Linked DNA regions of Homo sapiens: all the other regions are linked to region 1. Evidence: fine-mapped expression QTL. A gene starts in region 1. Each other region holds a variant in brackets. All regions are shown on one strand. Distances are between the middles of the regions.

Region 1 (2,757 bases):
CATATTTAGGACATCTTGCAACTATAATCAACATATGCAAAATATCCTATTTCAAAGAAGATCCTTCCTTTATAAGATTAGTAATTCTGTTGTATGAACAGGATTTTTCTCTATTATGCTAAATATAATCATTTTGTAGTAAATGAATACGGCAATGTACTATATGAAAATTTATATGTAATTTGATTATTGTAATTTAACAAATAGTTCTCTTACTGAAGATCAGGCAGCATATTTTTCTATTTAGGGATGAGGAAACAGAGGTTTGGAGAGGTTAAGCTGTTTTCCTAAGGTTATATAACAGGTATGTGGAATTCTGATGCAGGAACTCCTATCTGTTTAATCCAAAGTGCCTCACACCCAACAATACTGCTTTTACTTGATATATAATGATAAAACCTTGATATATAATGATAAAACCTAACTGCAATCACCAATCTTTTTCTTTTTTTTCTTTTCTTTTTTTTTTGTTTTTTGAGATGGAGTCTAGCTCTGTCACCCAGGCTGGCGTGCAATGGCGCGATCTCCACTCACTGCAACCTCCACCTCCCAGGTTCAAGCTATTCTCCTGCCTCAGCCTCCCAAGTAGCTGGGATTACAGGTGCCCGCCACCACGCCCAGCTAATTTTTGTATTTTTAGCAGAGACAGGGTTTCACTGTGTTGGCCAGGCTGGTGTCGAACTCCTGACCTCGTGATCCACCCTCCTTGGCCTCCCAAACTGTTGGGATTACAAGCGTGAGCCACCGCGCCCGGCTCACCTATCTTTTTCTAAGGATAGAGACCAAAGAAGCCACAACCCCTTCCAAGGAGTCAACTGACGCCAATGGGATGCTGTGGTGCAGGACACTTGGGGGGTGCTGCAGCTGATGCCCCTTGGTCTCCTGGTGGTGGAAGGGAAATGGGACTAGATACGAGATTGGCATCTAAGCCATACAAAAAAGCTGTCTCAGACAGGTTGGGCCAGTAAGCACAACGTCACTTATCTATATTGGCTTCTGGTTACCTAATGGGTTTGGTTTGGTAAAAATTAAGAATCAGACTTCTGGGATGCAAGCTATGCCTGTTCAAAATCTGCTGTCAGCCCCTGTGTTTCAAGCTTAACCTTGAACCTCATCATTAATCAGGTGACCTTAGACCGTTTTATCAGCCACGTATCTGCTAGCATAAATCTCCCTTCTGTGAATTCAGAACACTGATACCTCACATTCACTAAAAATACAATGAGAGACAGATGCTCACTTTCTTTATTTGCTGTTGTATTCTTGGTCCCACTTTGCCATTTTTAAAACAGGAAAACGTTTCCCTTACTCGAACGCTAAAGTGCAAAGCTGCTGGTGACGCTGCCTTCTCCCACCTCCGCACTCCACTGTCCTTGCAAACTTTGGACAGAGGAAAGGTGGGCACGGGGCGCGAAACTACAAGTCCCGGCATGCACGGCGTTCTCCGCACAGGCGCACGGGGACCGCCGGGCCAGCCGGCCAGCCAGCCTGCGGAGACTCCCGGGTCCCCGCGCCGGACTGGGACTGGGAGCAGGCAGCCCGGGCGGAGCGGGCCGGTGCCGAGGACGGCCCCAGGCATTGCTCTGCCCCGGGCATTGCGCGGCGCGCGTGAGGGGGATGCGGCAGGAGGCGGCGCGGCGGGAGGAGTAGGCGGCGGCGCCCTCGGGAGGGAGCTGCGCGCGGGCCAGACGGCGCCCGGAGGCTCCGCAGTGCCGCCGCCGTCGCCCGGGAGGCTCCGCGCGGGAGCCATGTAACCCTGCGGCGGGCTCCGGGCTGCTCCGTCCTTCCCCAGCTCCCGGGCTAGCGCGGCAGCGGGGCCACGATGAAGAAGCAGTTCAATCGCATGCGCCAGCTGGCCAACCAGACGGTGGGCAGGTAGGTCACCCGCGGGCACCGCTGTCGGTGCGCGCCCGCGAGGCTGCATCCGCAGGGGCGCGCAGGTGATGGAGCCCGCCCAGCCTCCAGTCCTCCTTGCCTCAGTCCTTTCCCCTGCACCAGCTCCCTCCAGGCGCCGCTCGCAGGCGCGACCCCTCCTCCCTAACTTCCCAGACCCCGGAGCTCTTCTCACTCGCCGCCTTCTGCTCCGGGCTCCGGTTGCCAAGCGCAAAGTGTGACGCATCCTTTACCTGCGTCCCCGGCTGCCCCTTCGCTTCGTCCTCCCTGCCTTTCCCCGGGACTCCCTTCTCCCTCTGGCCGCCTGTCTTCCTGGAAACAGGTGTTTGCTCTGATTGTGCTGGAGGCAGCCGAACCGCAGTCGGTCTCCGGAGATCTCTTCCCTCCCCTCCCCTGCGCCGAGTTCAGGGCTGCTCCCGGGTCCAGGGAAAGTGCTGGGCCTGGTCGGCCTGCCCCTCCCGCCGTGTTTGTTTTCAGGGACTATGACTGTACGAGATTCTGGATCACTTTCCTGGCCGGGTTTCTTAAGGCGTTTGGTGGGGGGAAAGGGTGAGGGGTGGGAGAGGAAGGAAGGTGCTGGTGGAATGGCGTTGCTGCCTGCTTGATGTTAGGACTGATTTCAGTGGAGGGAGGGAGGCTGCAAAAAGGAGGCCCAAGTCCTCGGGAAGATGAGATAAGCAGAGAATCGCAGCCAGGTAGGGGAGGGGGACAGAGGCCCCACAGTCAGAAGAGTCAGGCCCCGGGAAGCTGCAAGACCCCGCCTGCTGCCATCACGGTGAAAATGGGCTACATCTGGACTCCAGGAGCGGCTCTGCAGGGTGCCAACATCTATTAAGGTTACATAAAAATCCTGGTGGGTCGCTC
Region 2 (2,757 bases), 780 kb after region 1:
TAAAGAAGGGAACTGACTTATCCCAAATCAAGTCATCATATGGCAGGTGCAGGATCAAAGGTTGGGCTCCTGTGTCCAAGGATCCTTTCCATCCTAGGGGGTGACCGCTCGGACCACTTTCTTGTGGGACCCTATCTGGAAGGACTAGGAAAACAATGCATTTGGAAATTGTAAATGGAGGCTTAGAGAAAGTCGGGGTGCTAAGAAATACCCATGAAAAAAGGGCATCAAGGGAGGCCAGCAGAAAGTATGCGAGAGCTGCTACAGGGATTTGATCCTGAGGTTGATATAGGGCTCACAATTGTATTGGCTGTAATTAAATCTCTGGCTTCTGTTCATAGAGGCTGGGCTCCCTAGAGGAGAGGTCCAGGCTGTGTTTTAATTTGTTAAGGTCATTTCACCTGCCTGATCTTCACACCCATGCTTTTATTTTACAGGATTAAGTAGACGGGGAATTCAACAGCTATTTTCTGAGTTTTTACCATGTGCAAGGCACTGTGCCAGAAACCACAGGAAAATAAAAAATTGAGCAAAACACAAACTCAAGGAACTAGCCGTCCTGTTAGGGATATGGGAGGCAGGAAAAGAATAAGTTAAAATTGTATATATTGAATTAGGGAAAGCAGATGACCCTTTTCCGCCACAAGACCTTGCTTATTTAACAGCCTGATCCCAATGAGCAGAAAAGGACTTTTATGTGGAGTCCTGGAGTTCAGGAGGTCCTGGAAGAAAGATTACAGCCAACTCCACTAAAGTTTTTCCACTGATGTCTGGATTTCATTGAACACCATGAGATTCCTCACCCTGATCTCCTAGTTGACAAATCCATCAGATTTTCAGTATTCTTGGCTCTCCTTAGCCTCCTTCCTGTCCACATTTAAAATGACCTTTCCCCAACCTCTATGGCATTACAGTTGCCCTAGATCTCATCCACCCTCTCTGAATGCATTTTAGAATACCCCAATGCCCACAGGAAGGCTTCTTCCAAGACCTCCTCCTCCTTCCAACTCATAAATACTCAATCCATCCATGCTTTGTCTTCTCACTTCCAAGCAGAGCATTCCAAGCCTCCATTTGTAGTGTTATGCCTGTCTCATGGAAGGTTCCACCTAGAACTCGAAGCTCCCCACCTGACCTCTCTGTCTATCCACAACCATGCCCCCTCAGTTCTACCCATTTCCACACCACCATGCTGCAAAGTTGGGAAAGTCATCATTTATGATTCCTTTTTAGTCTCCTGAACCAACCAGAAATCGAAATCTGATGATTCTTCCTCTCCAGTCTTTCCTGGTCCAGGTCTTCATCGCCACCAGCCCAAAAGACAGTAGCTGTGTCTCTGGCAGAGTTCCCACCTCCAGAACCCTCTATCCTCACAATCAACATGTGACTGAGCTCAATGTTGAGTGTGAGTGTCAACAACACGGGCTGAATGTTTGTACCCCTCCCCCAAATTCATATGTTGAAACTGTAATCTCCAATGTGATGGTACGAGGAGCTGGGGGCCTTTGCGAGGTGATTGGATTTAGATGAAGGCATGAGGGTGGAGCCTCCAAAGTGGAGTTACGGGCACA[G/A]GGGAGCTTGCCTCCTTCTCTCTGCTCTCTCTGATATGTGAGAATACACAAGAAGATGGCAGTCTGCAAACCAGAAAGAGTGCCCTTACTGGACACCAGCTCTTCCCACGCCTTGGTCTTAGACTTTCCAACCTCCATAGAAGTAAGAAATCAGTATTTGTTGTTTAAATCAGTGGTATTCTGTTACAGCAGATAAACTAAGACCATTCCCTAATGCAGTTCTCACCCCAGTACTCTCTATCCTTGTGCTCAATTAATTCAGTATATACCCATTGCCATATCACTCTTTTTTTTTTTTTTTTTGAGATGGAGTCTCACTCTATCACTCAGGCTGGAGTACAGTGGCGCGATCTCAGCTCACTGCAACCTCCACCTCCCGGGTTCAAGTGATTCTCCTGCCTCAGACTCCCAAGTAGCTGGGACTACAGGTGTGTGTCACCACGCCTGGCTAATTTTTTGTGTTTTTAGTAGAGACGGGTTTTCACCGTGTTAGCTAAGATGGTCTCGAACTCCTGACCTCAGCCTCCCAAGGTGCTGGGATTACAGGCCTGAGCCACTGCGCCCGGCCCTATCACTCTTAAAACAGTGGGTCGGGTGTGGTGGCTCACACCTGTAATCCCAGCACTTTGGGAGGCTGAGACAGGCGGATCACGAGGTCAGGAGATCGAGACCATCCTGGCTAACACGGTGAAACCCCATCTCTACTAAAAGTACAAAAAATTAGCGGGACATGGTGGCGGGCGCCTGTAGTCCCAGCTACTCAGGAGGCTGAGGCAGGAGAATGGCATGAACCCAGGAGGTGGAGCCTGCAGTGAGCTGAGATCATGCCACTGCACTGCAGCCTAGGCAAGAGTGCAAGACTCCATCTGAAAACAAAACCAAACAAAACAAATACACACACACACACACACAAAAAACACACAAAAAAAATGAAGGGCATGTCTCATAATCACCCTGCTCAAAAATGTTCCCCATGTCAATAGATGGTAATTGTAAAACACTAAAACTGATGTCCAGGGTCCCTTGCAAGGGGGGTCTGCTTTTTCTTTCCCATCTCACCTTGAAATACTGCTTGAAGACAAAATATCCCCTATAGTCAAATTAATCCTCTTGCCACCATCCTGTAATGCATCCACATATGCTTCCCTCTTCCACTTCACAGTTGCCCCTACCTGGAATTTTTTCT
Region 3 (2,710 bases), 190 kb after region 1:
ACCCAGGAGGCGGAGGTTGCAGTGAGCCGAGATGGTGCCACTGCACTCCAACCTGGGTGACAGAGCGAGACTCTGTGTCAAAAAAAAAAAAAAAAAAAAGTATTTTCACTGTAAAACCAGGAAATGACAAAGGGACAGGGGGTTAGATAGTCTTAGAGCATAGGAGGGGGCACCTGACCCTGGGCATGCTGGGTTGCTGTTGATGACTTCAACTCAGAGGATGCTCGGTCCTGGCTGTGTAATTGCTAGGCCACAGATGGACCTGAGAGATGCAGATGCGGGCACAGTGAGTTCATTGGAGAAGCAGAGTCTGAGAGTGGTGGGCCAGGTGAGGCCGACCAGGAGGAAACGGACCCACAGGCGGGAGATGGGCTGGGACTGCTTCCTTTTTGGACACTCCTCAGCTTCATCCTAGTTTCCCATCTTAGAAAGGGGACTCAGTGCCATATGGTATTTGGCATATAAATGATATTTCTAAAAAGTGCTCCTTGAAGATGGATTCCCCCAGGCTCTGAAGGCATTCCAGGAACATTCTCGGTGGGTGACCTTGCAGAGTTACTTGTGGGCAGGCAATGGCACCCTCTGGTTTCGATTATTTTAAAGCCAACTCACATTGCTCTATAGCCAAATGTCTTTCCCCTTTGCCCGGGCTGACCGGTTTAGTAACTTTTCTTTGGATGTTAGTGTTTTGTGTTTTACACCACTTTTTGTTCTCTCCCCGCATGGGTTTCTCCCAGTACAAACAGGTGTTCCATTGTTTTTGTTTGTGTTGTTTGTTTCTGTTTCCTGGATGTTTGCAGCCCAGATGATGTTCCCTCGAGTGGCCGGATTCTCGTTCTGGCTCCCCCTCCCCTGATGGCAGGCCCTTCCTTGCCTCTGACTGGTTCCCACCTTCCCACTCCCTACCCCAGGCCCCACCTTCAGTTCTTTCCCTGGCTCTGTCCAGCCAGGCTCTGCCTCCACATCCCGCCCAACTGCTTAGCATGAATGCTAACCCCAAAATTCTCCTTCCTGCTTCTTGGCACCAAGGTCATGGGCTGAGTCATGCATCTTCAGAGCTAACTTGTCCTCAAACGTGCCTTAAACATGCCTTGTTCA[G/C]GTAGCGCCCCTAGTAGCCGCCCTACGCCCCACCTCTCCCCACTGGGTCAGCTGCACCTATGCTGGAGAAAGAGGACAAGGCTAAGTGGGTAAATACTTGTTTCTGTGCTGGAGGAAGTGTGTCCGGGCCGGGCGTGGTAGCTCACGCCTGCAATCCCAGCACTTTGGGTGGCCGAGGGGGGTGGATCCTGAGGTCAGGAGATCGAGGCCATCCTGGCCAACATGGTGAAACCCCGTCTGTACTATAAATACAAAAATTAGCTGGGTGTGGTGGCACATGCCTTTAATCCTAGCTACTTGGGAGGCTGAGGAAGGAGAATCGCTTGAACCTGGGAGGCAGAGATGACAGTGAGCTGAGATCATGGCACTATACTCCAGCTGGGCAACAGAGCAAGACTCCATCTCAAAAAAAAAAAAAAAAAAAAGTGTGTTTCGTGGCAGGGAACAGAAGGAAGAGCTCATTCCTAGATTCCTTGGATAGATGTGTGTCCAAAGGAAGGAAGAAGAGTCTACCCACCCACAAGAAGCAATTTTTTAGTTTGCTGATTATGAGATGTTTTTGATTGGTTGACTGGCCTTCCTCTTGATAGTGGCAGAGATAGATGGAAGGGTAGGTAGATATTTGGCATTGATGCCCGGGTACCTGGTAACCTGCAGCCTGAGGTCCTTGTCCAGCCTGAGTGAGGCAAGGGTTTTCTGTTTCTGTTTTTCATGAACAGAATAGAGAAAGGAATTACTGCTCTTTTGGTTCCTCTGAATAAAATGGTTTTTGCCCCTTGGGGAACTAGGTATAGTGTGTAAGACTCATCCCAAGTGGGAGAGAATGTGCCTCCACATTGAATGTGATCTTCCTTTTATTTCTTTGCATGAGGAAAATGACCTGTGCTTTGACGCTATGGGCTTCCCCGGCCCAGCTCCCTGCTCCCAGTCTTTCTCACCTCAGTGGACGAGAGTGCTCTATTCCTATTGGAATTTTCTCCAAATTAACACCTGGAGTTTCTAGATCAGTTTAGGAAAGAAATAGGCTGTGCCTGCCTTTTTTTTTTCTTTTCTTTTTTCTTTTTTCTTTTTTTTTTTGACAGGGTCTCCCTCTGTTGCCCAGGCTGGAGTGCAGTGGCACGATCTCAGCTCACTGCAACCTCCATCTCCCGGGTTCAAGCCATCCTCCTGCCTCAGCCTCCCGAGTGGCTGGGATTACAGGCACATGTCACCACGCCCAGCTAATTTTTGCATTTTTAGTGTAGACAGGGTTTCGCCATGTTGGCCAGGCTGGTCTCAAACTCCTGACCTCAGGTGACCTGCCTGCCTCGGCCTCCCAAAGTGCTGGATTACAGGCATGAGCCACCATGCCCGGCCCAGGTTGTGCCTGCTCTTGTGGGATAGAAACAGCCATTGCAGAGGATTTGGGTTCCCAGACTCTTCATGCCCCACCTGTGGGCATCAGAATCCAGGTAGGTTCTAGCACGGATGACAGATGGCTCCCAACTGTGGGGCATCTCCCCTGATTCACTAAAGGCCACCTGGAGAATTTTCTTGGAAAGGATTGAGAACACTGTGGGGGAAGTGTGGAGATCAATTAGTAATATCTACCATCAGCGTATCAGGATGACAA

Which allele goes with the higher level. Alleles are on the strand shown, and positions count from the first base shown. SD is a standard deviation of normalised expression in the study named. Not every link is listed here.
In carriers of allele C in region 3, the expression in unexposed skin of the gene that starts at base 1,482 in region 1 tends to be lower than with G alone (small effect, 0.21 SD a copy in GTEx).

Evidence for each region. PIP is the estimated chance that this variant, and not a neighbour inherited with it, causes the effect.
Region 2: its variant is the best candidate, but not a certain one, in a credible set for the expression of ARHGAP44 in prefrontal cortex (GTEx, PIP 0.61).
Region 3: its variant is the best candidate, but not a certain one, in a credible set for the expression of ARHGAP44 in unexposed skin (GTEx, PIP 0.62).

What each region holds. Positions count from the first base shown.
Region 1 is chr17:12,788,017-12,790,773 of GRCh38, forward strand. ARHGAP44 (Rho GTPase activating protein 44) reads left to right here and starts at 1,482. Exons shown (of 21, transcript NM_014859.6): 1 at 1,482-1,875. The coding sequence starts at 1,823. ARHGAP44-AS1 (ARHGAP44 and MYOCD antisense RNA 1) reads right to left here and starts at 2,268. Exons shown (of 2, transcript NR_104607.1): 1 at 2,127-2,268. RefSeq lists a silencer at 1,409-1,758.
Region 2 is chr17:13,572,278-13,575,034 of GRCh38, forward strand. The region is part of intron 1 of HS3ST3A1 (heparan sulfate-glucosamine 3-sulfotransferase 3A1); the gene reads right to left. Among named protein-coding and RNA genes, the nearest start is that of HS3ST3A1, 28 kb to the right of the region's middle. The variant G/A (reference allele first, on the strand shown) is at 1,572.
Region 3 is chr17:12,976,534-12,979,243 of GRCh38, forward strand. The region is part of intron 18 of ARHGAP44 (Rho GTPase activating protein 44); the gene reads left to right. Among named protein-coding and RNA genes, the nearest start is that of ELAC2, 40 kb to the right of the region's middle. RefSeq lists a silencer at 739-1,033. The variant G/C (reference allele first, on the strand shown) is at 1,099.